Homo sapiens: one gene and its partners. The protein of the gene in region 6 purifies or fractionates together with the protein of the main gene of each other region. This does not show direct contact. Each region holds a gene or a part of one and is shown on either strand. Other genes may lie near its edges. The genes, in order: LEMD3, TMEM127, ORM1, ALK, CHP1, RET and DHCR24.

The links.
Region 1: the proteins of RET (region 6) and LEMD3 purify together in Homo sapiens (affinity purification with mass spectrometry; one large-scale study listed by BioGRID and IntAct). This does not show direct contact.
Region 2: the proteins of RET (region 6) and TMEM127 purify together in Homo sapiens (affinity purification with western blotting; one study listed by BioGRID). This does not show direct contact.
Region 3: the proteins of RET (region 6) and ORM1 purify together in Homo sapiens (affinity purification with mass spectrometry; one large-scale study listed by BioGRID and IntAct). This does not show direct contact.
Region 4: the proteins of RET (region 6) and ALK purify together in Homo sapiens (affinity purification with western blotting; one study listed by BioGRID and IntAct). This does not show direct contact.
Region 5: the proteins of RET (region 6) and CHP1 purify together in Homo sapiens (affinity purification with mass spectrometry, with the first as the bait; one large-scale study listed by BioGRID). This does not show direct contact.
Region 7: the proteins of RET (region 6) and DHCR24 purify together in Homo sapiens (affinity purification with mass spectrometry, with the first as the bait; one large-scale study listed by BioGRID). This does not show direct contact.

What each region holds. Positions count from the first base shown.
Region 1 is NC_000012.12:65,235,341-65,239,632, reverse strand, and holds part of LEMD3 (inner nuclear membrane protein Man1), read right to left. Parts: intron 1,132-4,292; coding exon 1,052-1,131; intron 965-1,051; coding exon 819-964; intron 1-818.
Region 2 is NC_000002.12:96,252,498-96,256,789, forward strand, and holds part of TMEM127 (transmembrane protein 127), read right to left. Parts: intron 2,501-4,292; coding exon 2,336-2,500; intron 1,619-2,335; coding exon 1,311-1,618; 3' UTR 1-1,310. UniProt on the Homo sapiens protein: Controls cell proliferation acting as a negative regulator of TOR signaling pathway mediated by mTORC1. May act as a tumor suppressor.
Region 3 is NC_000009.12:114,321,103-114,326,173, reverse strand, and holds the start of ORM1 (alpha-1-acid glycoprotein 1 precursor), read right to left. Parts: upstream 3,077-5,071; 5' UTR 3,041-3,076; coding exon 2,927-3,040; intron 2,512-2,926; coding exon 2,369-2,511; intron 2,157-2,368; coding exon 2,086-2,156; intron 1,385-2,085; coding exon 1,277-1,384; intron 1,126-1,276; coding exon 1,022-1,125; intron 1-1,021. UniProt on the Homo sapiens protein: Functions as a transport protein in the blood stream. Binds various ligands in the interior of its beta-barrel domain. Also binds synthetic drugs and influences their distribution and availability in the body.
Region 4 is NC_000002.12:29,225,152-29,229,443, reverse strand, and holds part of ALK (ALK tyrosine kinase receptor isoform 1 precursor), read left to right. Parts: intron 1-377; coding exon 378-560; intron 561-1,771; coding exon 1,772-1,870; intron 1,871-2,369; coding exon 2,370-2,522; intron 2,523-3,878; coding exon 3,879-3,983; intron 3,984-4,292. UniProt on the Homo sapiens protein: Neuronal receptor tyrosine kinase that is essentially and transiently expressed in specific regions of the central and peripheral nervous systems and plays an important role in the genesis and differentiation of the nervous system.
Region 5 is NC_000015.10:41,237,340-41,241,631, reverse strand, and holds part of CHP1 (calcineurin B homologous protein 1), read right to left. Parts: intron 1-4,292. UniProt on the Homo sapiens protein: Calcium-binding protein involved in different processes such as regulation of vesicular trafficking, plasma membrane Na(+)/H(+) exchanger and gene transcription. Involved in the constitutive exocytic membrane traffic.
Region 6 is NC_000010.11:43,122,069-43,126,360, forward strand, and holds part of RET (proto-oncogene tyrosine-protein kinase receptor Ret isoform a precursor), read left to right. Parts: intron 1-1,602; coding exon 1,603-1,740; intron 1,741-2,814; coding exon 2,815-2,914; intron 2,915-4,292. UniProt on the Homo sapiens protein: Receptor tyrosine-protein kinase involved in numerous cellular mechanisms including cell proliferation, neuronal navigation, cell migration, and cell differentiation in response to glia cell line-derived growth family factors (GDNF, NRTN, ARTN, PSPN and GDF15).
Region 7 is NC_000001.11:54,849,196-54,852,695, forward strand, and holds the end of DHCR24 (delta(24)-sterol reductase precursor), read right to left. Parts: intron 3,192-3,500; coding exon 3,038-3,191; 3' UTR 432-3,037; downstream 1-431. UniProt on the Homo sapiens protein: Catalyzes the reduction of the delta-24 double bond of sterol intermediates during cholesterol biosynthesis.

The DNA of each region.
Region 1 (4,292 bases), on a different chromosome or scaffold from region 6:
GACTAGAAAAGTGAACCTCATGAGATTAAACATACTAAATCTTACTTTAAGTAAAATGAATTTTTCTTTTGTTGTTGTTGTTTTTGAGATAGGGTCTTACTCTGTCATCCAGGCTGGAGGGCAGTAGTGCAATCATGGCTAACTGCAGCCTCCAACTCCTGGGCTCAAGAAATCCTCCTACCTCAGCTTCCCAAGTAGCTGGGACTACAGGCACGTGCCACTATGCCTGTCTAATTTTAAAAATTTTTTTGTAGAGGTAGGGTCTATGCTTCCCAGGCTGGTCTTAAACTCCTGAGTGCAAGCAATCCTCCTGCCTCCCAAAGTGCTGGGATTACAGGTGTGAGCCACTAAAGCTGGCCAAAATGAATTATTTTTAAAGAAGAAAGAAAGAATGAAAAAACAACTCTCACCTAAATCCCTATTATCAATTAAAAAATGATAAAAATTTTAAATGTAGGTAAATTACATTTTAAAAACTAAATTTTAATAAACTTTATAACACTTTATTATTTAAAAATAAGCTCAATTTTTGTATTTTTCAATTCTACTTTCTAAAGTAGATTTCTATGTATATACTGACCACACTTGTTTTTCTGTGACAGTCTTATAACAAAGTTTTATTTCTACCTCTCCTTATATTACTGCTTTCTAAGCCTTTAGAATGATTCTGACATTATTTTTATTATATTTAGTGAAGACATCTAGCTGTGACTTATGTGGCAACCATCACAAAAATGAATTCTCAACTCTGGCATTTAGTGAAATACACACAAAAATTCAGGCTGCAATTTATCTCATTTCTTATCTTTACAACTTACCTAAGCATAACAACAATAATCTGTGAGTTACAGTAACAAAAGCACGTCGAAAACGACACCAAAAAGACATCAGTGGTCTTGTGGACTGTAAAAACTGCACATCAGTTATATTTGTCAATTCTTCCTCAGGGCCAAAACCAACACACCTATTTAAAAATAAGTAAGGTAGAATTTAAAGTCAAAAACCATTTCTCCCAGTACAGAATGGTCAAAGTGGAAATCAGATCCTTTACCTTATTCCAACATCTTTTCCATTTTCTAAGATCCACTGCAATGAAGTGTTAAATATACCTTCATATTCAGGACCTAAATCCTAACAAGAAAAATAGAGAAAAATAACTATTCTTAATCTACATTCGACTCTCTGTAAAGTATCCTTTATAACACACTCTATATAACATTTTTATTTTAACTACATAACATAAAATATTCATTACAGAAAATTTTAAAAAGAATGAGAAAAAAGAAAAAAAAAGTTAGCATTTTCCCACTACTCCAATATAATCAGTGTTAATATTTTGCTTTTTTATATTTTACATATTTGGGAACTGAGTCTCTCTCACTCAGGCTGGAGTGCAGTGGGACAATTTTGGCTCACTGCAGCCCCCGCCTCCTGGGTTCAAGCAATTCTCCTGCCTCAGCCTCCCAAGTAGTTGGGATTACAAGCATCAGCTACCAGGCCCAGCTAATTTTCTTTTTTCGTACTTTTAGAGAGACGAGGTTTCACCATGCTGGCCAGGCTGGACTTAAACTCCTGACCTCAAGTGATCCGCCAGCCTTGGACTCCCAAAGTGCTGGGATTACAGTCATGAGCCACTGCGCCTGGCTTGGAAGTTCTTTTTTTATCATTAGTTTATCAGTGCCATCATAAGAGTGAATTTACCACTTTTAAAAATGCAATATTATTTATAGATGAACAAATAAATGGCAAACTCTTCCAGATTTGGATGTTTCACAGACAAGTATTCTCAACACATAAAAGCAGTAAGCCTATCAACTAAAGAAAAACTGACCGGGTTACCAATTATAAGATTTGAGCATTCAAGTAAAAAGTAGAATTTTGAAAAACTAGCATTCATCTTTGTGACCTGGACAACTTCACAATACTTGAAGACCTTTCCAATGAGATTTGTGTGACATTAACAAATGCAGTTTTTTGATATGGAATAATGAAATGTGACCAATGCATCTGAAAATGACCAATGCATTTGAAAAATTCTGATTTTTATAAAAACCAATCACGCATAGGTAAAAGATCCATTCAAAGTACAAAATAAAAGGATTTTATGAGACAAGAGTACAAAAAGTTCACTGGCACAGTCTGACATTCCACATTGCAACTAACATTTAAGAAACTACTACTTATAGAGGTTTGGTATGGTATCAAAGAAAATATCTATCTACAATTACCTGAAAAGGCAACTAAAATACTTTCCAATGTTTTGACTACATATCAATGTGAGGCTGGATTTTCATGACATACTTCAACTAAAACATCATGACAGATTGAATAAAGAAGCAGATAAGAATCCAGTCACCTTTTATTAAGCTACACATTTAAGAGATTTATAAAATATATAACAATGCCACTGTTCTCATTGAATGTTTTCATTCTGGAAAAGTTATTTTTCATAAAAATACATTACGTTAACATATAATAGATTCATTTTTCTTATTCTAAATACATAAATTTTTTTCAGTTTTAATTTTTAATATAAACATGTATTTGTAATACATATTTACCATTAGAAAGTAAATATATCTTTCTAATAGAAACAAAAACATATAAATGTATATCTCCCACAAACAAAAGCCAGAGTCCTCAGTAATTATAGGGAACCAAAAAGCTTAAGAACTGCTATGTGTGGGTAGAGTATTTTTAAATTAAAATAGTAAAAATAAATGTGGTATCATATTACACATACTACTGTTCTACTTGTTTTCTTCATGGAACAAAATATTGTGTCAATGTCAGTTTACATGGAAAAAACCCTATTTTTTTCAACAAAATAGTATTCCATTGTATGATTATTCTATACTTTTAATCAACACCTTATTAATGAACATTTAGAATATGTCCAATTTTTAAAAATTTATCAAATATAATACTGTTATAAACACCTTTACCATGTGCCAAGTACTATTTTAGAAACTAGAGGTGCAGCATAAACAACACAGTGAAAAATTCCCTGTGTTCATGGAGCTTGTATTATTAGTATGTCTTTATGTCCCTTTTGAGCAAAAAATGAATTTTTTTTTTTTTTGAGACAGAGTCTTGCTCTGTCACCCAGGCTGGAGTGCAGTGGTGCGAACTCGCCTCACTGCAACCTCCATCTCCAGGGCTCAAGCACAGTCTTGTGCCTCAGCCTCCCAAGTAACTGTGATACTACAGGCGTGTGCCACCACACCCAGCTAATCACTGTATTTTTAGTAGTAGTAGAGATGGGGTTTCGCCATGTTGGCCAGGCTGGTGTCGAACTGCTGGCCTCAAGTGATCCGCCTGCCTTGGCCTCCCAAAGTGCTAGGATTACAGGCATGAGCCACTGTGCCTGGCTCGTAGAGGAAAAAATGAATTTCTAAAAACAGAAATAAAAAGTCATTTCAAATTCTCTCTAAAAAAAAGATTTTTCTAAGAAGTGTCCTATTGTATTTTATCAACAGATTCTTCAACAGCATTGGAAATTATAAGGTTTTCATTTGATCAGTATAGTTTACTTCCTAATATAAAACTGGTAAGTTATTCTAATGTATCAAATTTGCAAATGTAATAAAAAGTTTTATAAAGCAGAACTAATCTTGTTAGGCATCATTACATGAAACTACTATTAGGATTTTTAAGATGGTGAAGATAACTATAGGCCATCTGTTTTTTTAAGCTTGGGTGTTTATTATAGCATTTACAAACATCAAAAAAATTGCAGACAATGTATTTAATGATTGAAAAAAGGTTTATATATGAGATCATTTCAATGGATATTATGAACTTAGAAATAATCATGATGAGAGCTAAACAGCTATCTGCTTAAAAAAATAAAACTACAACATTTAATTTATATATACAGTCATACCTCAGTATTCACAGAGGATTGGTTCCAGGATGCCCCATGGATACCAAAATCCACAGATGTTCAAGTCCCTGATATAAAATTGCATAGTATTTGCATATAACCTATGCACATCATTCTTTATACTTTAAATCATTTCTAGATTACTTATAACACCTAATATAAATGAATATAGATAGCTGTATTTTTAAAATCTGTATTTTTTCCATTGTACTTTTTTTCTTTTTATTGCCACTAAGATTTTTGATCCACGGTTGGTTAAATCCATGGATGCAAAACCCATGTATACGTAGGGCCAACTGTATTTATAATTATAAAATATATGTACTCATATGAGTAGCACAAGAATGAGGATACAAGTGATTTTTATTTGCTTTAATATTGTTTTAAAATATTATGCAATAAAGTT
Region 2 (4,292 bases), on a different chromosome or scaffold from region 6:
CTGAGCAAGAAAGTCCCAGCAGCACACTGCAAGACCAGAGTACATTCAAGAGGGGAGAGGGCACGTGGCAAGCTGGAGTCCCGAGTCAGAGTCTAGGGCAGCACTGGGTCTGAAGGACACAGCCCGGCCTGCTGGGCTGACAGTGTGGGTCTGATGCCTCACATGATGTGGCCCCACTGGTTGTATTCCTATGTGGAGGGTGGTGGGTTCCTGCCCTGTTGTGGCCCCTGTTCCTAAACTGAGGCCAGGTTCCATCTCAGTGCTGCAGTCCTGAGGAGCACCACGCTGGCCCGCCAGCCAGGCCACAGTCCTCAGCCCCTCTGGGTTCCACGAGAAGGCCCCAGGGAGTCACCGTCACTGAGAGGGAAGGGGCCAGGGAAGGGAGGCTGCATTCTACTGGGAGAGACTCGGGGAGGGACTACCATGGGCTTGGAAGGAGCTACAGCCCCAAATATTGCAGAGCCAAAAGGAATGGGATACATGTCTAAAAAGTGACAACAGTCTTGTCCCTATTTTAAAAACAGAATATTGTTGCTGTTGCCTGGTTTCATTTTTTTCCTTTTAAAACCACTCATATTTAAAAGGTGAAGGGCTGGGAGATGTAGTCCCCTTCACTCTGGTCCTTGATAGGCACCAGGGGGCCTCAGTCTCACGCTGGCTCCTGCTCTCCTTGCCTGGGCTCCAGCCACATGAAGCAAGGGCAGAGAGGGTTGCAACTGCTCTGCCTTCCCAACAGCGATTCCCTCTCCCCATAAAACCAGGGCACACGTGAGGAGAAGTCCAAAGAGTAAAGTGCACAGAACTCCCCGGAGCAGGTGGCCTGGGGGCGGGTCACTCCGAGAAGGAAGGGGTCTGGGGGGCGTCAGCCCAGAGCTACAGCTGTGGAGCAAACACTGATCCCTGTGAAGTGAGCCTCCAGGGCACAGTCCCCTTTCCCTTGGGCCCTTTGACACTTGTTTTTGGGACTGTCCGCTCTCAGCAGCTCTCCAAGGAAAGTCTCGGTCCCAAAGATATCGCCCATGCTGGAGGAAACTTGGATGACCTTCCCTGGCTGGTAATGACTCGTGAATGTGAAGGGGGCAGGATGTGGCAGGAGGGAAAGAGTACATTATAGAAAACCAGTGGACCTCCGGTTCTGAGAGCAGGGATACTTGGATGACCCTAAAGGCAGAGTCTCTCCTGGGGAAGGTTTGGAGAAGATGGTCAGGATCCTACCAGTGAGGCCTGCTGGGGAAAGGAGCTCCTCTGGGTGCGAGAGGAGCTGCAGAGTTGAGGGAGGGGCTGCCGAGGAAGAGAGCCCAGGGCTGGCATTAGGGTGTGTAAGCAGGGGGTGGCTGGAACTGGTTGATGACCTCATATTCCGCCGGGTAGGGCTCGTTCTCTTCCATCTCTGAGAGCAGCTCCAGCGCCTGCTCCTCTTCCTCTGTGGGGTAGTGGCGCAGGAGGTTGGCTGCCGTGGCCAGGATTGAGGCTCCACCAGCTCCTGCCACCAGGTAGAAGCTAACGGCGAAGGTGACATAGACCTGGGATCCATGGTACTTCTTATGCTGCTGCTGCTGGGCCAAGATGAGTTCAGAAGCCCAATAAGAAAAGCCAATGACGGTGGCACACTGCAGAACTAGGAGACAGAGGGACAGCACAGAAGGGGAATTAGTGAGCACTCCACAGCTAGGATGCTTGAGGACCCAATCACAGCCTCTCTACCCAAACCCCATTCTCAGAGAACCTGCCTGGCCCCAGACTCTGCAAGGAGGAGCTCTCTTGACCATGGGATTCCTGGCCTGAGGTTGGGGACAGCAGTCTGACCTGATCTAGGCCAGTCAGATTCCATCTGTCTTAAGGAGCAAATAGGGTCATGCAGCTTGGGAGCTGGAGTAGGCACACCACAATTCAAACCAGCACAGCAGTGCAGGCACGAGGGAGGACAGCAGCTACATACAAGAAAAGGCGGGTCTGTAGGGAAGCAGGAAGGTGGAGAGGAGAGAATCTGACCAGGAGCTCCAGGGGAGACACGGGAGACTGCCTGGTTCCTTCTTCACTCATGTCAGGTCTGAGCTTCAAATGCCATTTTAGAGAGCTGTGAGCTTCCTTGTGGAATTTCTAGCAACATTTCCCCTCTACAGCTGGGCTGAGTGGGTTTGTGATCCTGGCAAGTTAGCAGCTAGACTGGAGCAGGCTGCTGACACCCTGACACTCTGGGAAAGACTGGAGCTTGGCACATGAGCTCCTGGAAGGGTGCCTGCTCAGAGAAACCAGAGCCCCCACCGGCAACTCAGACAGGATGCCCCCACCCTGTAGCAGTTCCTCTCCCACTGTGAGCAGGCTCACGGCTTACCCGTTAGGATATGGGCGAAGGCATAGCGACGAGTGATCTTCAGAGCAGGATGCTTCGGCCCAAAGACATCCAGAAGGAAAGCGGAGAGACTACACAGGATGCCCAGGAAACAGAAGGCGGCGATGACCCGCAGGAGCAGCACTGTCTGGGGATTCATGCAGAAATCTGTAGAGGGAGAACCAAATTTTCACGGCCCCAAGTAACACTTGGTGCAGGAAGTCCCCACCTAGAAGGAGTTTGATTCCCCTCCACCACAGTCCTGGGAGCCAGGGCAGTTCTGGAGGACGCTGTCTTAGCCCCTGCTCCTGGGTGGTCTGCAGGGTAGCTGGAGCAAATTCCACATTAGCAGAGGCCACTGCTCTCCTGTACCTCAAGTCCTTCTCTTTCCAACAGGACTAGCCTAAGTGCAGGATTCTACTTCACTGTGTATGCCATGCCCTTCTAACCATTTTTAAAGACACTGACAGTTAACCTGACATGTTAATGCATTCTGCTAAAGGATATTTTGAGCTGGCAGGAAAAGCCTGACTTTGGAGCTGAGACAGCCAGAGAGGCTAAGACCATACAGGTCAATTAATGCTGATTCTCCATTTACTCACTCATTCATTCCCTTTTTGTTCCAAAAAGAAGTTGAACTTGAAGATACTATGCTAAGTGAAATCAACCAAATGTAGGACAAATATTTTATAATTCCACTCATATGAGATACCTAGAATAATCAGTTTATAGAGACAGAAAATATAATGGTGGTTGCCAGCAGGTAGGGAGAGGGGAGAACAGGAAGTTATCATTTAATGTGCACAAAGGTTCAGTTTGAAATGATGATAGTTTTGGAAACAGATAGTCATGATGCATGTGCTTAATATCAATGAACTCAACACTTAAAATGGTTATTAATACTTTGGGTGGCTGAGGCAGGAGGATTGCTCGAGGCCAAGAGTCTGAGATCAGCCTGGGCAACATAGTGAGACCCCGTCTCTTTGAGGAAAAAAAAAAAATTAGCTGGGCATGGTGGCGCATGCCTATAGTCTTAGCTCCTTAGGAGGCTGAGGCAAGAGGACTGCTTGCGCCCAGGAGTTACTGTAAGCTATAATCACACCACTGCACTCCAGCCTGGATGACCGAGAGAGACCCTGTCTCTTAAAAAAACAAAATATTGGCCAGGCATGGTAGCTCACGCCTGTAATCCCAGCTCTTTGGGAGGCCGAGGCGGGCAGATCACGAGGTCAGAAGATCGAGACCATCTTGGCCAACATGGTGAAACCCCGTCTCTACCAAAAATACAAAAATTAGCTGGGTGTGATCGCATGCGCCTGTAGTCCCAGCTACTCTGGAGGCTGAGGCAGAAGAATTGCTTGAACCCGGAAGGTGGAGGTTGCAGTGAGCCGAGATTGCACCCCTGCACTCCAGCCTGGTGACAGAGTGAGACTCTGTCTCAAAAAAAAAAAAAAAAATGTTGGCAGGGCACGGTGGCTCACACCTGTAATCCCACACTTTGGGAGGCCAAGGCGGGCAAAACACCTGAGGTCAGGAGTTTGAGACAAGCCTGACCAACATGGGGAAACCCTGTCTCTACTAAAAATACAAAATTAGCCGGGCGTGGTGGTGCATGCCTGTGATCCCAGCTACTTGGGAGGCTGAGGCAGGAGAATTGCTTGAACCTGGGAGATGGAGGTTGCGGTGAGCCGAGATTGCGCCTTCACACTCCAGCATGGGCAACAAGAGAGAAACTCTGTCTCAAAAAAAAAAAAAAAAAAAGTTAAAATGCTAAGTTTTATGTTATGTATATTTTACCACAATTTTAAAAAAAAGTAAAATAAAGAAAAGAGGAAGAAGGAAGTTGCGGCAGTTTAGAGAAATGTGCAGCTACAAGAAAGTATTACATAGATTAGGAAAGTTGGTAGACTATATCACATTTAGTTTAGCTCCCTCCCTGAACTCTACGAGAACAAAAGAA
Region 3 (5,071 bases), on a different chromosome or scaffold from region 6:
CCAACCCTGGCACTGTCACTTCCCAGCTGGGTGATCTTGGGCAAGTCATTTTCTGTCTCTGAACCTCAGCTTACTTGCCTCTACAATGGGAGCTCAGACTCTTAAGAATCACTGGCATTTACTGTGCACTTAGGACCTGCCGAGCCCTTATGCTGCAGCTCCTGAATTCCTCACAACCACCACTACTATGCAGATGATGTAACTGAGGAGCAGGGTGGCCTTGGGACCCATTCGAGGCTCCCTAGCCAGACAGTGGGGGTGCCAGGCTGTGGATCAGGTGAGCTGACTACAGTGGTTGTGTTCATAAGCCCTGTCCCAGGATCCTGGGACTGCAGATGGGGGCAGGAGGTAGTTCACACCACTGGTGGTCATCTCAGATGGCAAATGGAAGGAATTGTTTTTCTTTGAATAGTCATGGAAGTACTGCATGTATATATTTTAAAAATTGGAACCAGCTCATCGGTGCTGTGATTTCACAGGTATTGGGCACAGGGCCACACCAACGCAAGTCTTCCAAACACAGGTTTAAAGAAAAGTGTTAAGGAGCTCATTATAAAGTAATTTTCATTTGTAGCAAAAATCGGGATGGTGACTGTGGCCGTGCTGCAGTGTGGGTGACATTGAAAACCACAGTATCAATTCCCCACTGCACGGGTATTAAAAATGAGTGGGGAGTGGAGGTGGGGTGAAAGCCTGGGGTTTGGGACGCGTCTGTAGGTGGTAACTCCCCGCATTACGTCCCCTCCAATTGCCAATCCCCCAACCCCGTGGCTCACGCTGTTCCCTCCTGTTAGCTTTCAGGTCCTCCCTGGTTTCACAGGGACTTCTCCCTCCTGGGCTCTCATCCACCACCCCTGGGCCTCTGTAGAGCTCAGCTGTCCCTACAGTGAGGCAGGTGCCTAAAAGCAGAAGATCTGCCTAGCTGTGCAGCCTTGCCTGGCAGCTCTCCTGCTCTGGGCCTCTGGGGCTGCCCAAGTTGGGCCATGGACAAGGTGGGCACTGTCCAATCCCTTGCGTTTACCTTTTTCCAATCGGTGTACACGACATCTGACTTGGGAATGCGCAAGCAGTCGAGAGCTTCGTAGAACTCTCCCAGTTGCTCCTTGGTCGTCTCTGGCTTGTCAGCTGCAGGGGGAGCAAGGAGACTGACTGGGGACATGGTGGGGCCCGGCGGGAGGCCAGGGAGGGCTGGGGTTCTAGGGGCCAGCCCAGGGGTGGGTGAATGGGGGGTGAGGCCTGAGAGGGGCATGAGTTTGGGGCTGCTAAGCATGCCTACCATAGACAGACAGCCCCCAGTTCTTCTCATCGTTCACGTCAAAAGCAAGCATGTAGGTCTTGGTGTCCCTGAGGATCAGCAAGTGAGCGAAATGCTCTTGGCCTCCCACTGGAAGAGAAAAGGAGCCTCTGGGTGAGAACATGGGATGGCACAATGGTGTCTGTCTTACAGGTGAGGAGGCCTAGGTGTGTCAGTGGCCACACAGCCCATCAGTGAAGGCCCAGGGCTCCTTTGGGCCACCGTGTGCCCAGCCCCTGCTGCATGCCCAGCTCCACGCCAAGCACTTTCTGTACATGAGATCTCAGGAGCCTCACACAGACCGTGGCTGTCAGGGCCTTTCTCCGTTTTACAGATGAGGAAAATGAGGCCCAGAGAGGAGGCTCGGGATGCTAAATGGTGTCAGTTCAGCTCCATCAGCTCCCTGCCATGTGCCACCTCTGCGGTGATGGGGGACATAGTTGAAGGTACCACCTCTCCAACATACAGGCTTCTACCATTGGTTTGCAAAGGATCTTAAAGAGGGCATGAGAGAGAGGCAGATCTGAAGCCAGCCTGGAGTTCCAATTCTAGTTCTAATTATAAGCTGTGTGACCTTGGGGAAACTATTTGAGGTCTCTGTTCTTCTTTTTCCTCCTCTAATTCTCTCAGTGTCCTCTTAGAGTTGTTTCTGAGCACATCGTTAGAGCTCAAAAATGTTAGTGGTTATTTCTCTGTGCCCAAAGCCTCCAGGGCTCTACATCCAGCCCCCACCTTATGCTGGCCTGCCCTGTTCCCACAGTGAACCCTCCTGCCTGAGGGCTGGCCCTCACCGTATCTGGAGATGGTCCCATTTTCCCGCTGGACATTCAGGTAGGTGGTGTTATAGATGCACTGGTCCTGTCTAAAGCCAAACAGAAGGCGGAAGGAAAACAGGAAGATTATTGAGAAGTGGCCAATCGCCCATCACAGTCCTGGGGCAAGAGTCTGGTGGAGATTAAAGCCAGCCCTCCCGGTTCCACCCATGGGAAGGCCAAGGCCAGGAAGAAGGAGGGACTTGCTCAGGTCTTCTGGCCAGAAGCTGAGATGGGGGTGCATTGGAATGGGGGCTCTCACCGGGTCTGGTACTCTCTGAGAAAGATCGTGTCCTCTGTCTTGTTGGGGGTGAAGTAAAAGAAGGTTGCTTGGATCTCCTGAACCGACTTATTGTACTCCTCGTTTCGAAAGGCCGATGCGATATAAAACCACTTGCCAGTGATCTGGGGAGAAGGTGGGAGCTGGTGATGGGGGCTTGATGCTGAATCTTTGACTGTCAGCTGGGAGGAGACTCAGGCAGATCTCTCCCTGATTTTGCAGATGGGGAGATGAGGCCCCTGGTGGGCAGTGCGCATGCAGGAGCTCACCCTGAGGATCAGTCATTGCCCCCCAGGCAGCCCCTCCAGGCCCAGCACAGAACCGTCCTCCGTGAAGGACTCTGCAGTGAGGCTTCTGTGTTTGGAGGCAGGGGGTGCCTCCAGAGTCCCCTGGGCTGGTGAGAATTTCACCCTGGGGACCCAGAAGAGAAAAAGGCAGAGCCGGGAGTGGGGGTCCGACCACAGCCAGCAGGGAAAGGGAAGCCCAGAGAAGGGAGGCAGCTGCCCATGTGCTCAGGACAGGGCTAGCCCAGGCACTCACCCGGTCCAGGGTGGCGTTGGTGATGGGCACCGGTACTAGGTTGGCACACAATGGGATCTGGGCTTCCAGCAGAGGTAGGAGGCTCAGGACTGTAAGAACCCAGGACAGCGCCATACTGAGACCAGGAGGCACGTGGAGCCAGGCAGTGCTGGTGGCTGCAGGGTGCAGTCACCTTTATAATAAACTATGGGCGGTCACTTGGAGCCCAGCAAAAGTTTACTCTGTGTCTGTGACACAATCCTGCCAGCACTTGGGAAATGCCTCGCACAAAACCTCCCCCAAAGGCCAGCTCGGAGCACCGCCTCCAAACCCAGGTCTAATTTGAGTTCCTCACATGGAGAGGTTACAAAAGCCCTAGAGTATGGCTGCCCAAGGCCAAGGTGGGTGCGGGGCTGCAGCAACATTAGTAAACGTGTGAGTCCACAGATTTCCTAGAGAGGCCTCCCGCAGAGGAATCTCATGTCTTCATTCAATTCCTATCCCTCTGAGTGCCAAGACTTACTTCAGTGGGACCCAGCCACAAACCTAATGATGAAGCCACCTTTGAGGGTCCCCAGGCTGGCATGGGATGTATGTTGTGGCGGGGAGAGTTGGGGTGAAGGATGCCGGGGAAGACAAACATAGATTCAGTTCCACTGAGTGTGGCAACAGCTGTGTCAGAGCCAAAGTTCATTGGGGCCCCAACCCAGCCCTGGACGCAGGCACATTTCCAAAAAGGGACATCCAAGTTGAATGTCTATTTCCAGTAAATATACTACTCGAAGCATCTCCCAACATCTCAAACAGGAAACTGTCTCCCTGTTTTCCCCCATTCCCTGCCATCTGAGCAGGCAGCTTGCTTCTCTTTCACCAATACGCCCCCAATCCTGGAGCAGTGCCCAGCACTTCAAGGGCACTCGGTATATTCTGTGGAATGAGTGATTCCGTGGCCCATTTGTGTTCCTACCTCACGGGTCAAGTCTTTATTTGTATGAATAAATACTTTCAGAAAGTATTCATTTTTTTTTTTTTTTGATACGGAGTTTCACTCCCGTCCCCCAGGCTGGAGTGCAATGGCTCAATCTCGGCTCACTGCAACCTGTGCCTCCTGGGTTCAAGCGATTCTCCTGCCTCAGCCTCCTGAGTCGCTGGGATTACTGGTGCCCTCCACAACGCCCAGCTAATTTTTTTTGTTGTTGTTATTTTCAGTAGAGATGGGGTTTCTCCATGTTGGCCAGGCTGGTCTGGAACTCCCGACCTCAGGTGACTCACCCGTCTCGGCCTCCCAAAGTGCTGGGATTACTCAGAAAGTATTCTTACGGTATGATTATAATTTTGCATTCTTATTCATTTCATTCTGAATAACTTTCATATTTCAGTGTAGTTTGTAGTTAAAAGCTTAATGGACCCAAGATGGGAGAGTCACCTGAGTCCTGGAGTTCAAGACTAGCCTGGGCAACATAGTGAGACCCTATCTTTACACAAAAATATTTAAAAATTAGCCAGGTCGGCCAGGCGCGGTGGCTCACGCCTGTAATCCCAGCACTTTGGGAGGCTGAGGCGGGCGGATCATGAGGTCAAGAGATGGAGACCATCCTGGCTAACATGGTGAAACCCCATCTCTACTAAAAATACAAAAACAAAATTAGCTGGGCGTGGTGGCAGGCGCCTGTAGTCCCAGCTACTTGGGAGGCTGAGATGGGAGAATGGCGTGAACCTGGGAGGCAGAGCTTGCAGTGAGCTGAGATGGCGCCACTGCACTCCAGCCTGGGTGACAGAGTGAGACTCCGTCTCAAGGAAAACAAACAAACAAACAAAAAAATTAGCCAGGTCTGGTGCCATGTACCTGAAAGCCTAGCTACTCTGGACTCTGAGGCTGGAAGATTGCTTGAGCCCAGGAGTTCAAAGCTGCAGTAAGCTGTGATTTTGCCACTACACTCCAGCCTGTATGATGGAGCAAGAGACCCTGTCTCAAAAATAAATAAATAAATAAATAAATAAAAGTGTAATGGATGCACAACTTTTCATTCACTTACTCTATTCTTTTTTTGTTTTTGTTTTTGTTCTGAAATGGCATCTCACTCTGTCGCCCAGGCTGGAGTGTAGTGGTGGGATCTTGGCTCACTGCAACCTCTGCCACCCAGGCTCAAGAGATCCTCCCAGCTC
Region 4 (4,292 bases), on a different chromosome or scaffold from region 6:
CTACGGGGCTTGGCTGACATGAAGAGAAGATAGAGGAACGAGTTTAGTCGCCATGCTGCCTGTCTGCCCACGTCCCCCCATCCTTAACCAAGCACAGCCCCTGCTTTTGAGCCAGAGAGTACTGGCAGGAAGCAGGGGTACAAGGCACGCTCTCATCTGGGTGTACTCAGCTGTGGCCAAACAGGTCTCCTAGGGCAAGCAGCCTCCTGGTTTTCCTAGTGTGGATCTGAAGCCCCCAGGCCCCACTGAAGATGGGCCCCGGGAGCTGGAGCTGGTGCGGGCGCCCTCCAAGGCGTCCTGCATCCTGCTTCTCTGGCCAGCATGGCTAATTGAACCTTGCCAGCATCCTCACGCAGGTTCCCTATCTCTTCCCGCAGGTGGTGGAGGTGGCTGGAATGATAACACTTCCTTGCTCTGGGCCGGAAAATCTTTGCAGGAGGGTGCCACCGGAGGACATTCCTGCCCCCAGGCCATGAAGAAGTGGGGGTGGGAGACAAGAGGGGGTTTCGGAGGGGGTGGAGGGGGGTGCTCCTCAGGTGGAGGAGGCGGAGGATATATAGGTAAAGATGATTCGTGTTCAAGGTGTCACTCCCTCCCTGCTTAGTCCTAGGCTCCTCACCTCCCTGCCCTGCCCTCCCCTGCCCTCCCCTGGCCTGCCCAAGTGTGGACTGTGATGTGACTGCACGCCTCCCTCTCGACCTGCCTGGACCAGCCAGAGGCAGGGTGCTGGCTTTCGAGCCAGCACCCTGCCTCCAGGCTTCCTCAGCGACAGCATCAAGATCCCATGTGATTCTTGATGTCCCCCAAAGTCGATGATAAAGAGGCTTTGGCTTGCCAGACTAGTCTCTGAGTCACCCATAAGGACTCCCCCAGCCTCCCTTGGATGGCCTGGCCAAGCCAGCTCCTGAAGGGGCTGGTTTGTGGTTTCATGGACTCCTTACTCCTGCTCCCTACCTCAGCCCACCAGCTTCCTGAAAGGCGCCGCTGTGCCTGCTGATGGGAGCTATTCCCGAGGGCAACTGCAGGCAGGCTTAGCCCAGCCCTTCAGCAAGCAGCTGCCCATTGACCCCAGCTGCCTCGTCTGGGCTTCAGAGCACAGTCAGCAGAGCCTTCTGAAGCTGAGAGGCTGGGAGACGATGGCTCCCCGCTCCCCACAGATTAGGACGAATGCATGCATGCTCTGTGGTGTTCGTGTCTGTGTTTTGCATTGACGCTGTGTGTAAGATGCTTGTGTTAACCACATGCTCTTCTTTTCCAAGCTGGGTGGGTGGGAGGAGCCCGAGGGGGGAGCCCAAAGATAGCCCAGCCCCAGATGAAAGGAGGGACGGGAGCCTCAGGGCACAGGGGCTCATTTCCCGCAATCCGCACAGCCCGCCACACCCCAACCCTGACCCAATGGGGCTGAAGAGCAACTCTTCAGTGCTACCATCCTGACCAGTCCTGGGAGAGGCACCATGGGCATATCCCAGCCTGGAAAGACTAGAACTTTTTGGACTCTTGCTCACATTAACCACTTCTTAGTGGGCCACCGGCAGAGTGGGAGCTGGCCTGGACCTGAGGGGAAATTAGCCACACACCCAGCATCTACTGAGCCAAATCCCACATGCAGCCTCTGTGCCCTGAGCCTCCCTTCCCTCCCCGCATCCCTGCCCCTGAGGTCCCCAGTGACCCCCTAACTTTGGCCAGAGCTGCATGCCCCACTGACGTGTGTGTGTGTTAAGATTTTGGCACCCACCCCCCATGTTAAACTCTGCTCTGGTTTGCTACTCAGGCGGCAATGCAGCCTCAAACAATGACCCCGAAATGGATGGGGAAGATGGGGTTTCCTTCATCAGTCCACTGGGCATCCTGTACACCCCAGCTTTAAAAGGTAGCTTCTCTGCCAGGCAGCAGAACAAACTTGCTTAGGTCAGTCCTCCCACCAAGCTAAAACCTCAGAGTCTCTGACCTGTATCCAGGATACAGAGGCACAATTATGGGTCCCTGGCAGGCAAGCTTCCTATGGCGCAGGTCACCACATTTTCCAGAAGTCAGGATGTGTGCTTTAATATGAATGCAGAGGCAGAATCCTAGGAAATGTAACAGTAATAGCCCAATACCTGCACCAGCCAACCTAAAGATCATGTGCGTGGGCTTCTCTCCACCACTGACTCAAAAGCAAACATCCATAGACACCCATGCCCGCTGCCTCCGCTGCACTCTCTATATGCACAGGAAGACTCTTCTACACAGTTGTGCTTCCAGTGGCTATGGGACCTAGGAACAGGGACCACCAGAGCACCCACAGTGACCACCTGGAGACATAGTACTGAGGCTGGGAGTGGGGAGGCAGGCTCGGCCCAAGACTGACCCTCCCTCCTTGTCACTAGTGATGGAAGGCCACGGGGAAGTGAATATTAAGCATTATCTAAACTGCAGTCACTGTGAGGTAGACGAATGTCACATGGACCCTGAAAGCCACAAGGTCATCTGCTTCTGTGACCACGGGACGGTGCTGGCTGAGGATGGCGTCTCCTGCATTGGTAAGGGGGCAGGGCCAGGGGAGGCAGAGGGGCCCATAGCCTGAGATTTGGCCCATGACCACAAATGGTTTCTGGGTTCCAGAACACCCTGGATTCGGTTTTGTAAACTTTCTGTCCCTCCCCTACCTGCCACAGCTCGAGTGCTCTGACCACTGTGTGAAAGGTGGGTCATGGCTCCTGAAGGAGTCTTAAAAATCCTCTACTATAGAATAAGCCCTCTACCACCCCCACCAAGGGGCCATCCTGCCTCCACTTAAACATGCCCAGTGACAGGGATCTTACTGCTCCTAAGGTTCTCTGTTCCCTTGGGCAGTTTCAGAGCTGGGGACCTGTTGCCTTAACCTTCCTCTCCTAGGTTTCCTTACAGCAGCAGCTGTGCATGTGCAGTGTTTGAAGACAGTGCTCCCATTCTCCTCCTCTTTTTTTTTTTTTTTTTTTTTTTTGAGGCGGAGTTTCACTGTTGTTGCCCAGGCTGGAATGCAATGGTGTGGTCTCGGCTCACTGCAACCTCCGCTTCCCAGGTTCAAACAATTCTTCTGCCTCAGCCTCCTGAGTAGCTGGGACTACAGGCGCCCACCACCATGCCAGGCTAATTTTCATATTTTCAGTAGAGACAGGGTTTCACCTTTTGGCCAGGCTGGTCTCAAACTCCTGACCTCAGGTGATTCACCCGCCTCGGCCTCCCAAAGTGCTGGGATTACAGGTGTGAGCCACCGCACCTGGCCCCATCCTCCTCCTTTAACTCTTCTTCAGACTAAATAACCCATTTGTTTGCAGCAGTTCATACAAGATGCAGTTTTGTGTCTCTTCCCCCGCCCCACCAGTGTCCCTCTTCTGCATGTGTTCCACTATCGATGTCCCTTTTGAAATGTAGTGTCCAGTACCAAGCACGATACCTCCGTGTGGTCTGGCCAGCAGAGGGCACAGGACCCCTCCCCACTGTGAGCCCAGTGCCTCAGGGCCACAAGGAAGTAACTTAGCCTCAGAGGGTGTTACTTACAGCGCACCCTGTTGTTTGGTCACCTGCGGCCCCCACATCTCTTCCAGATCCACTTTCGTTTCACCTTCCATCCTCACCCCATAGTTGTGCAGCTCATGTTTCAAACCAACATCCCGCCACTGATATTCATCCCTGTTAAATTTCCCTTCACCCAAAAGCTACTGCTAAAAGCCTGTCAAATCGGGATGAGTCTGGTCCTGCTCATGGTCCCCTGAAAAGAAAAGTGTGACAAGGTCTCCAGCGATGGGAAGGAGCAAGTAGTTTTTGTCTCAGTGGGGGAGGTTATTTCTGACTTGGGACCAACTCAAAGGAGACCTGGTGTGGTTGTCAATACCCCAGTGGGACCTGTCTTCCAGTGTCACCCACCCCGGAGCCACACCTGCCACTCTCGCTGATCCTCTCTGTGGTGACCTCTGCCCTCGTGGCCGCCCTGGTCCTGGCTTTCTCCGGCATCATGATTGGTGAGTGCACAGAGCCCCAGGGACTCCCAAGGGGGCAGGAAGGCAGGACTGAATAGTGTCTCAGGCTGTGCCACAGGTGCCAAGGTGTCACTTCGTTATGCTAGTCCCTGGAATTGGGTGGGGTGGTGATTAGGGCAGCCCAGGCCAAGCCAAAACGGAAGCTCCCAACCTTCCCCCCACCAGAGCAGCTGCAGTTCCCTGAGGAGCCCCTGATTCTGCACCTCAGCCCCGTGTGTATCCTCCTGGCTGATCAGGGGGTGGGGAGCTCCTTCAGTGTCCATCACGATGGTGAAAGCTCGCCCCCACCCC
Region 5 (4,292 bases), on a different chromosome or scaffold from region 6:
TTTCCATCGGGGCAGAGCCAGCAGGGATCCAGCCACTAAGGAGACAGTTGTGGACTGTTTTGCCAGCCGGACAGGTATAAATGGCTCACTGTAAAGTGTACACACTTGTGAGGGTTAGGCAGACAGATTCTGATTCCATTGCTAGCACCATGGCTTACCAGAGAGAGGTAAGTGAATGGGATTGTAGAGCGAACTCACCAGTCAATGAAAGGAAAATGCTTGGCAAAGTGCCAGGCACATGGCAAGCACTCCAGATTAGCTATTATCAGCATCATGCTTACATCCTGAGCCTGAAGGCACAAGTATTACTGCTGCACTAATTACTCTCCATTTCCCTCCTGACTTTGCCAGTTACAACCGTTTTCTTTAAGAACTTGACCAGTCTATCCCAGTTCTGGCCTCAGGCCTCAAAGGCTATTCTTGTACTAAAGTTCCCTTTAGTTTAACAAAAATAAGTCAGTTAAAGAATTACTAAATTTCAGGCTGGGCGCAGTGGCTCACGCCTGTAATCTCAGCACTTTGGGAGGCCAAGGCGGGCGGATGCTGAGGAAAAGAGATCGAGACCATCCTGGCCAACATGGCGAAACCTCGTCTCTACTAAAAATACAAAAATCTGCTGGGTGTGGTGGCGTCTGCCTCTAGTCCCAGCTACTTGGGAAGCTGAGGCAGGAGAATCACTTGAACCAGGGAGGCGAAGGTTGCAGTGAGCGGAGATCACGTCACTGCACTCCAGACTGGTGACAGAACAAGACTCTGTTTCAAAAAAAAAAAGAATTACTAAGTTTCCCAAAAGATTTTTTGAAAAAAACAAAATTTGTTCACAATCCCAACACTGCCATTTTCATTTCTTCATAGATCTTTTTTTTTTTTTTTTTTTTGAGATAGAGTTTCGCTCTTCTTGCCCAGGCTGGAGCGCAATGGCACAATCTTGGCTCACCACAACCTCCGCCTTCTGGGTTCCCGTGATTCTCCAGCCTCAGCCTCCCAAGTAGCTGGAATTATAGGCATGCGCCACCACACCCAGCTAATTTTGTATTTTTAGTAGAGACAGGGTTTCTCCATGTTGGTCAGGCTGGTCTTAAACTCCCAACCTCGGGTGATCCACTCACCTCGGCCTCCCAAAGTGCTGGGATTACAGGCATGAGCCACCGCGCCCAGCTCTTCATATATCATCTAATATCAGTTACTCGTGTACTTTACAAAGTTGTAATAGCTTGCTTTTCATTTAGTAATTCATACTTTTTCTATATTGCTTTGGAGTCCTTCTTTATCCAATTTATATAATTTTAAAATTGGTAGAAATGTTATCTAATCCGACCCCTTCAATGAACAAATGAGAGCCAGGCATGATGGCTGGCGCCTATAATCCCAGCACTTCCAGAGGCAGAAGCAGGACAATGATTTGAGGCCAGGAGTTCAAGACCAGGCTGGGGAACAAAATAAAAATAAAAATAAAAAATAAAATTATTTTAAACCAAAAAAATCCACAAATGAGCCATTAAACATCTTTCTAATCTATATCATCTAAAATAACTGGGCACTGAGGCTGGGCGTGGTGGCTCACACCTGTAATCCCAGCTGTAATCCCAGCACTTTGGGAGGCCGAGGCGGGCGGATCACGAGGTCAGGAGATTGAGACCATCCTGGCTAACACGGTGAAACCCTGTCTCTACTACAAATACAAAAAATTAGACGGGCGTGGTGGCAGGCACCTGTAGTCCCAGCTACTCGGGAGGCTGAGGCAGGAGAATGGTTTGAACCTGGGAGGCGGAGCTTGCAGTGAGCTGAGATTGCGCCACTGCACTCCAGCCTGGGTGACAGAGAGGAGACTCTGTCTCGAAAAAATAAATAAATAAAAAAGAAATAAAATAACTGGGCACTGAAACCTCCTATAGTATGTTAAGACCAGTTTATGGCTGCTTAAATTCAAAATGTGGCAAGGCCTGGTGGCTCAAGCCTGCAATACCAGCACTTTGGGGGGCTGAGGGCGGGCAGATCACCTGTGGCCAAGAGTTCAAGACCAGCCTGGCCAACATGGTAAAACCCTGTCTCTACTAAAAATACAAAAATTAGCCAGGTGTGGTGGTATAATCCCAGCTACTTGGGAGGCTGAGGCAGGAGAATCGCTTGATCCTGGGAGATGGAGGTTGCAGTGAGCTGAAATCTCACCACTGCACTCCAGCCTGGGCGACAGAGTGAGACTCCGCCTCAAAACAAAACAAAACAAAACAAACGATAACAAAAAATAATGTACTAATATGTTAAAAATAAATAATGTAAATAAGTAGCCAAAACATTAAAAAAAAAAAAACTATCTTCCAGGACGAACTGGGTTATATGGGAGTCAGTGGAGAAACATACAACCAAATGTCAACTTTTAATACTAATCAATATGGTCATATCTAAACTTATCTCCAAAATTTTAGAACAAATTTTAGAACCATAACGATATGGTTACAAGTAATTTTGTTAACAAAAAGAAGGAGAGAAGGCTTTAATTTAGGTACTAAATTCACTGTGACAAAGAATATAAAGCAATCTCAGAACAATCCCAATCTACCTATAAAGGAGCTACACCATCCATGTGTAGAAAGGTACTGGAACTGGTGTGAATGAAGGCAGATCATGTTTCCAGTGAAGTATTTTCCCCAGAAGGCTCTAAGCTAGTCAGATAGGTGCCCAAAACCTGCACAATTCTTGGTAACCCAAAGGAAATAACAGGAGTTGACAGTTACTCTCAGAGAAGGCCGTGCATATAAACGTGTCTTTTTTCTTTTTTTGAGATGGAGGCTTGCTTTGTCACCCAGGATGGAGTGCAGTGGCGCGATCTTGGCTCACTGCAAACTCTGCCTCCCAGGTTCAGGCCATTCTCCTGCCTCAGCCTCCTGAGTAGCTGCGACTACAGGTACCTGCCACCACCATGCCTGGCTAATTTTTTTTTTTTTTTGTATTTTTAGTAGAGACCAGGTTTCACCGTGTTAGCCAGGATGATCTCGATCTCCCGACCTCGTGATCCACCCGCCTCAGCCGCCCTAAAGTGCTGGGATTACAGGCATGAGCCACCGTGCCCTGCTATAAACATGTCTTGAATGAAGCTGTATTTTTTCTCCACTGGTATGGGTATATAATCATTTTAAATTGTTAAAAGATTATTTAAAAGACCCTGTTTGGCTGAGGGCAGTGGCTCATGCCTGTAATCCTAGCACTTTGGGAGGCTAAAGTGGGAGGATCCCTTGACGAAAGGCCAGTTCAAAACTAGCCTGGGCAACAAAGCAAGACTTCATCTCTATAATCAATCAATCAATCATTAGCTGGGCATCGTGGTGCATTCCTGTACGCTGAGCTATTTAGGAGGCAGAGGCAGAAGGACTGTTTCAGCCCAGGAGTTCAAGGTTGTAGTGAGCTATGATCACACCCCTCCACTCCAACCTGGGTGACAGAGTGAGACCCTGTCTCAAAAAAAAAACACACGCCAAAAAAACAAAAAAAGACCCTGTTAACGTTGCTGAAATCTTTCTATCATCACTGCATTGTGCAAAGAGGAGGAAGGCATTTCACAGAAGTGCGAAGCAGAAGTGGCAGAGGAAAGAATAAAAACAAAAAGGGAGTAAGAAAAAGTTATTTTGGAGGGCCAGGCATGGTGGCTCATGCCTGTAATCCTAGCACTTTTGGGAGGTGGGTGGATTACGAGGTCAAGAGATCAAGATCATCCTGGCCAACATGGGGAAACCCCATCTCTACTAAAAATACAAAAATTAGCCGGGCATGGTGGCACGTGCCTATAGTCCCAGCTACTCAGGAGGCTGAGGCGGGAGAATCCCTTGAACCCGGGAGGCGGGATTGCACCACTGCACTCCAGCCTGGTGACAGAACGAGACTCCATCTCAAAAAAAAAGAAAAGAAAAAGTTATTTTGTCCTTGCCTTTATTCCAAATCTTAATGCAGAAGAACAGACTGATAACCTATGTAAAGATTACAAGTACAGCTAAAGGTAGCTCTAGATAAAGGAAAGTTGAAGCCTGCGCTTCCCGGAATAGACTACACCTTAACATTCCCCCTGACATGAAGACTTCAAGCCCTGGACTAGTCTCTTAGGGATTAAGAGAGATTTTAAAACATTATATAAAACAAACAAAATCTATCTTCTTATAATTGGAGAAATTTGAATAGGAAGTGAATGATAGATAATATTAAGGTGGCTCACGTCTATAATCCTAGCCCTTTGGGAGGCTGAGGCAGGCAGATCATCTGAGGTTAGGAGTTCGAGACCAGCCTGGCCAACATGGTAAAAC
Region 6 (4,292 bases):
CATGTAGTGGGGCCACGACGCCCGTCTGTGCAGCTTGGCCAGGGAATTGCACTGGCCCTGAGCACCTGTCTGCAGTGCTAGCCCTCTGCAATGACCCCCTCACTGAGGGGCCTTCATGATGTGTTCGTGAGGCAAATGGCTGGGCCAGGCCGGGCTGCAGTTCTGAAAGCTCCGGTAGAGCATGAGAGCCGAGCAGGTGGCCAGTAACCCAGCCTCCCCCACCCTTGCTAGTCCCATGCCTCCCTCTGGGTCCCTTGGTGACTCAGGCCCAGCCCAGCAGTTACCCTCCTGTGGTCCTGAGTAGGGCTTTGGGCTCAGGCAGAGCACCCAGTGACTTGCCCCCACCCACAAGTGGAGCTTGGGGACTCCACCTGAAGATGGCCTTGTGTGAGTTTATAGATTGGTGTGCCCCAAACTGCTCAAAGGTGGAAGCCAAAATCTCATTCTTCCAGGTCCAATGACAAGAGCTGATCACTTTTAAAACACAGGATTCTTGCCTCTAAAGTGTTCTACAGTCAGCAGAGGTGTGATGTGCCTCTCTTTTTTTGTGGGGGGAGGGGATAGGGTCTCACTCTGTCACCCAGGTTGGAGTGCAGTGGCGCAATCCTGGCTCACTGCAACCTCCACCTCCTGGGTTCAAGCGATTCCTGTGCCTCAGCCTCCTGAGTAGCTGGGATTACAGGCACGTGCTACTTCGCCTGGCTCATTTTTTTGTATTTTTTGGTAGGGACAGGGTTTCACCATGTTGGTCACACTGGTCTTGAATCCTGACCTCAAATGATCCACCCACCTCAGCCTCCCAAAGTGCTGGGATTACAGGCGAGAGCCACCACGCCTGGCCAACATGTGCATCTTAAATACTGTGGGCTGTGAATAAGCAATTGGACAACAGCTTTCCGATTATATAAGCTGACTGTAGGCTAGTTGGAAAAGGCAGAGAAAAGCATAAAGAAGAGACTGAATGTCATTGGACCACACCGCCCAGTGACCTCTGGCTGCCCTCTGGTGTGCTCCGTGGTGTGCACATGTATGCTTTTTATTGCCCTAAATGGGCTCATGCGATGCTGTTTTGTGATATGATTTTGTTCCCATTGCAAAGCGAGTTTTCCTTCACAGTTAAAATGTTTTTCTATAGCTTTTTTTCCTTCTAAGATTTTATGAAATTTTCCAAGCACATAGAAATGGCAAAAGAACTATACAAGGCACTCTGAGTCTGGTGGCCTGCATTCTCACCGCTTTAAGTGTGAGAATCTTAAGAATTATTAAGATTAATTCATGATATTAATTAATGTATCATTAATTCATTAATCATGAATTCATCTTAAGCCTCATGTGTCCCTTGTGCGTGTGGCTGCTCTGATGGGAGTGGCTTGGGCAAGGACTTCAGCTTCATGGAGTAGGGGCCAGGCAGGCAGGCAGCCCTTCCCCACCTTCATGCTACATCCATCTGAGCAGCCAGACCCAGGCTGACATCTGTGAGCATCTGTGCTTGAAGCCGACAGGGTCAGCAGGTGCTTGGTGGTGGGGGTGGATATCTGGGCCCCCCGGAGGGCTCTGTGAGGGCCAGGTGGAGCCACTCACTGGTCCTTTCACTCTCTGCAGATGGTCTTTTGGTGTCCTGCTGTGGGAGATCGTGACCCTAGGGGGAAACCCCTATCCTGGGATTCCTCCTGAGCGGCTCTTCAACCTTCTGAAGACCGGCCACCGGATGGAGAGGCCAGACAACTGCAGCGAGGAGATGTGAGCGGGGACTGGCTTTGGCCCAGCCTCACTTGGGAAGGGAGGGGACATCTGTGTGCATTCCCTCCCCATCCAGAGCAGCCCCAGGAGAAACCAGGAGAAGTGGGGGGTGGGGAGTGGGCAGGGCAGAGGTTAGAGAGCCATCCTTGGGTGTGGCAGTAGATGCTGGGGGTCCTACCCCACTGAGGGCTGGTGGGCTTCCTAGGGGGTCTTATAAAAATGAGTGAGAGCAGAGACTGGTGCAATGCAAGCTCAAGGGCTGAGAGCTGTCCCAGCAGGACACTTAGGGAGGAGAAGGTAATTCCAGATGGCCCAGGGGGCACGTGTTAAGGGGTGCCTGAGTGGAGGTGCAGAGCCAGGCAGGGGCAGCCTGGGCTGCAACCTGAGAGGTTGAAACCTTTACACTCTCAGGGGAGATGGTCTTAGAAACCAGGCTGAGAACAGATGAGAAAGGGCTGCCCAGAGGCAGAGATGCATGGTACATGCATTCCACAGAGTGTGCACACTGCTGGGGCGTGGAGGGGGCATGCTGGGCCGAGAAGCCAGGTACCACCTCCCTGGGCCCCCAGCTGGTGGCCAGCTGGAGCGCTGTGGTCTGCCTGGGCACCCAGGCAAGCAAGGACGGTGCAGGACAGACGTGTGATTGCCAAAGGTTCTTGTTTGTCTGTCTCCACACCTAAAAGCCCTCAATCAATTCATTCTTCTTGAGAGTTTTAAGGACTGGCACTTCTCACTTAGCTGCCAGAGCAAGCATAGTATCCAGTGAGCTGTTTACCAGTGTCTTTGCAAGGGAAGTAAAAATGAATCTCCCTTGGAGGGAAGGGAAGCTTGTAGGATTCTGGACCACAGCTCTGAGAGACCTGAGCACAGTGGCCCACGGGCTGGGATCCTGCAACAGGCCATGCCCCAGTCCCACGAGGCTCAGAGATGTCAGCGATGCAGAAATAGCTTTGGAGTTGGAGACAGAGCACACTGGGCCCAGGGTACAGGGCAGGGTGCGATGGCTGTGGTGGGCTGTCCTTCTGAGACCTGGCCCTGCTTGGATCATATTGGCCTGTCTGCTCTTCCCACCAGGTACCGCCTGATGCTGCAATGCTGGAAGCAGGAGCCGGACAAAAGGCCGGTGTTTGCGGACATCAGCAAAGACCTGGAGAAGATGATGGTTAAGAGGAGAGTGAGTGCCTGGGTCCAATTCCCACAAGCTGAAAGTGGCTTGGGGAGACTCCAGCCTCACCCCAGGGCAGTAGTTTTAGCCCTCAGAGTTCCCAGTGTGGGGCCACAGTGGGATTGTGCAGAGAGAGAGAGTCATGCTCTCCCCTGCATGCAGACAGCAGATTGAACCCTTCTCAGGCCAGGCCGCTTGGGCTTCTTTTCAAGTCATGAAGAAACCAAGATTCTTGACATTTAGGAAAAGCTCTCTACAGACAGGCATGGGAGGAAAATATTCCAAAGCCAAAAAGAAATAGTTTTCCATAATGGAAAATGAGAAAGTTGAGTTAAAGCAAGTGCCCAAAATTCAGATGCCCAGAGGGGGGTCCGGCTGGAGGAGGGCAGTGAGTAAGGAGCAGTGGAGACTGTGGCAAACAGCCAGCCCCCTCCAAAGGGTTCCTTGCTGGAGTACCTGTGGCCTGCAGAAAAAGGAGCCAGGAATGGGCTGGGTCTTCTGAATTTTATGAGGTTTATGTTGTCTCCCAGTTTTTATTGTTAACAATTCATTTAAATTTCCCAGAGCCGAACGCAGGCCAAACAAAGCATATCGGGGGGTGGCCAGAGTCAGCCTGTGTGCCTGGAAGTACAGTTTGTGAGGTCTACACATTTTCAACCAATATTCATCAGGCAGCTGCTAGGACCCATACTATGTCTCAGAGGCTGGGAATGCAGATAAACAAGACCAGCACAGCCCTGCCCTCACGGGGTTTACACACAGGCCTTGTCTTAACATTGGCACATTTACTGAGTTGTCACTTCTTCCGACTTGGATAGCGGGATGCAGGACCTAGGACCCCATAGGAAAACTTCACATCACTGTCTCGCTTGGATGAAAACTTCAAGTCCTGAGAATGCAGCGTTGTTCAAAACAGAAGCGATCACTGGTGCTGGCCTTCCTAGAACAGTGCTGAGAAACAGCCGGGAAAACGCTGGGCCCCTCTGTGCACATTCAAGCTGGGCATTGAAAGGAGCAGACGCCAGTGGCCCCTCGTGCTGGGGAGCCCGTGCCTGTAGCAGGGTCCTGTGCACCCTGACAGCGCTGTCAGATTTCAGAACTCAGCCCTGACGTGACGTTCTAGATGGCAGGGGTCCTTGGGGAAAGCTGGAAAACATCCTGCAGGCTGGGGCTGCGTCCTGGCATGTGGCTGCAGTGGGCTCCCCCAGAGCCCAAGGGTTTGTCAGCGGGCTGGTTCCGTGCTGCCCATCTCCGGGTTGGGCCAGGGGCAGCTAGATGAGGCGTCCCCCAAGGCTGCCCTCCAGGCCCTGGAGATAAGACGCTGAGGGAGCACATTTCTTTCCCCAGGGAGGTGACTTTCCAGGGGAAGAGACAGAATAGACAACAC
Region 7 (3,500 bases), on a different chromosome or scaffold from region 6:
GGAAAGGTAGTCTAGCTATGTGTCCAAAGAATGGAGGAATGCATTTTAATGGACAGCTAGTGGGTCCACTAGTTTGTAGATGAGGACAACAGTCTCAACAGGATTAACTTGCTAAAATTAATTGGTCACAACCAAGTGACAAAGCCAGGCCTCCACCCTAACCAGAGCCACCATCGTCTCACCTGGACTGCAGTGGTGGCCTTCTCACTGGTCTGCTTGCCACCCTGCACACAGAGGGATCCTTTCAACACTTACTCCAATCACACTCTGACAGTGATAGAAATAAACCTGTCAGTTCCTGCATGTTCTTCTAGCCCTCGGCCATGGGCTCATGGGTTCAGTGAGAGCAACTGAGTTGGGGAATGGCACAGCCTGCACCCGAGCCCAGATCTGACTCCACATTTTGGTCCCCCAAGCAAGAAACGACAAACGCCAGCTTCCAGGCCACTTTTATTTAAACAGAAGCAGCGGCCCCACAGCCATGGGGACATGTCTTCCAGACAGTAGACACAGTGCCTGTGGCTGTAAGAGCCTGACAGGGAAGATTCATGCCTTTCTCCTTGGCCCCCATGACCAAAGAAGAAAATAAAAATCACACACCATACACTGCCACACCCATCTCCACCCCTCCCTTTCAGTAATATCCAAGTATTCATCCTTCTGGCCAAAGAAACTGGCTACAATTCTGATTCTAAAGAAAACCTTCATGCAGCCAAGAAACTCAGGGCTCTGGAGGGGAGAGCCTTACTCTGATACTTTCCACATGCACTGCCCACTGGCATCAAGTTTAACTCCATCCAAAACCATCACATGGATGGCCAGGGACAGGACTGGCTACAAAAAAAAGCCATGAACTCAGCTCACCATGCTAAGAAGACTGCCTCTTTCCAGGCAAGATTTTACTGGAGCAACATAACCGGAGGGTGTGATTCCAAAATACCTTCCTTTCCAAGCCCCGGGTTGTGGATAAGGTCTGGATTTTGGTTATATGACTAAGGGCGACAGAGGCTGCTGGCATCTCTGGCCACCGTCCCAGTGGCTTAGGGTTGGAGGCTTCACTGGCAAAACAATGGCACTGTTTAACTAGCTCGTGTTAACCATTCATCTACAGCAAGTAGAATCATCAGTTTTGCACTGAGCAAGGAAGCACATGGGTCTCCTATGAGAGCTAATGCCAGAATTCACATGCTTTGTAAAATATAGGATGAGGTTTATTTCTTTCTTCTGCCCCCTCCAGAGGCCAAATGGGTAGGGTGGTTCCTTTGCCTTCTGAGTGCCTGGATGCCCCCAGCCCTCACAAGACCCTGCTAAGACACTGGCAGTGTGCCAAGCCTTGGGTGGGATGGGTGAACACCCTTCAATGACTCTGAGAGGATTCTGGCACCTGGAATGACAAGACAGATGCTTCCCTGCAAGCCAGGTATGAGCCTTTCTGGAAATGAGATGGGAGCTGACCTTGGGGTTGAAGGAAGGATCTTGAATGACAGATAATCCCCAAGTGTCCACTGGATCATTTTTCCTCTGACTTTCCACACAAATGAGGCTTTCCGTGGGTTTTGCAACCACAGTGTCTAAGACAATCAGAAGGGTTCCAGGGAGGTCTTGTCTGTAGCGATGTGACAGATGAGGAAACTGCAGCTCAGAGGACAATGACTTGCCCACGTTGCACAGCTCGCTGACAGTAGAGAGGGGCTGAAACCTAGGTCTCCTGACTCACACGCCACAACCATGACTGGCTCAGCTCCCTTAATTCCAGCTTCCCTTACATGACGCAATTCCTTCTCAGATTCGGGTTTTCAGCTGAGGCTGGGCAGTTCTTAAGATAGAGTTGCATAAACAACCAAGCTTTGCGTTATAACAAGCCAGGGAAGGACCTAGGGAGGTTCCCTTCCCTCTGGAACGGAAATGGAACTTTCTCTGAGCTTAGGATTTGTAAGGCACTGAAATTAACTACAGCTGGGGTGGGGAGTGGTGGAAGAAAGAAAAAGAGGGATGAGTGGTTGGAGAAATCAAGTCGATGCTCTTTTCTTCCAGCCCCACGGTGAGAATCCTACAGAAACATGAGGGTGGACTCCACTTTCCCACCTGATGCTGTCCACTCCCCAGCCCCTGCTGCAGAGCAGCGCGGACCCACTCCCACCAAGACAAAGTGGGTTTTGGGAAAGATGAGGCCTGCAGGGTTGGTGAGCCAAGAAGAATGAGCCCAGGTCCCCTGGATCCAATTCAGAGCGGAGACCACTCTCTCCACCTAGGTGTCCCAGGCTGAGGCTGGGACAAGATTCAACCCTGGAATGCCTTCTCCAGGAACACAGGGCACTCCGAGTGGACTCAGTGGTGGCTGGGGTGGGCCTGCAGGCCCAGGCATGAAGGAGGAAGGGGCAGGACGGCACCAAGGATGGCAGGGAGAACTTTGGCCTCGGACCTGGCTTTGGCACAGCGCATCTGGGGCCTCCCCACTCCGTGGCTGCCCTCCTGAGATCCCAGGGTGGGGAAGAGCTGTCCTTCTCCTGTGAGGACCTCGTCTGGCTGATGGAGGCGATGGCAGGGCAACTCCAGCGTATCCCCTTCATCATTCCAGCCATGGCTGTGCACAGGTGACCTAATGTGGAGCCTTTTCAGGCTCCACTGCAGATGTGACGCTGAACGGGAAGCAACAAGAGCTACCACTTACCCAGCACCTTCAATGTGACCAGTGCTCAACTCAGATGACAACAACCTGCAAGTAGGTATTACTATCCCTTTCAACTAATGAAGAGACCCGGGCTCAGAGGGGTTAAGGGACTCACCCAGAGTCACACAGCTAATGAGTTCTAAACGGGGAACTGGACTCAGGCTTGTCTGACTCCAAATCCCACATTCTTTCCATTCCACTGGGCTGCCCCCTGGAAGCCAGGAGGAAGGTGGTGTTGGGCTGTCAGGGTGGGAGTTCTGGAGGGGTTTCTCTTTGAAAGTGTGGATCTAGGAAAGCAGCCAAGCTTGAGTGAAGGGAAGATGCCTGACCACTCACACGTGTCTGTCTCTCCAGGCGGGCTCCAGCTCAGTGCCTGGCGGCCTTGCAGATCTTGTCGTACACCTCGGGGAAGGCGTCCTGGCAACCCAGCTTCTCTCGCAGCTTGTGGTACAAGGAGCCATCAAACATCTCCCAGAACTCCTCCCGGTTCATGTAGCAGTCGGCATACAGCATCTGGAAGCTGCAGAGGCAGAGAAGTGGGTGAGGACGCCAGGAGGCACACGGAACGCGAGGCGTGAGAGAAACCCAACTGCTCATTCTGCAGCCCAGAAAAGGCTTTTGGAGGATTTCTCTTGTTTAACCCCGTTAACCTGGTGAAGAAGATGGTGCAGGTATTCTTATCCCCCTTTTGCAGGTAGGGAATTGGGGCTTGGGGGTTAGGTAGCTTAGCAGTGGAGGTAGAGTCAGGAGTAGAGCTCAGACTGCTGGGCTTCTGCCCCTCTGCTTGGCCAGAGGCACAGCTGCCTTCCCTAATGGAGCAGTGGGGTTG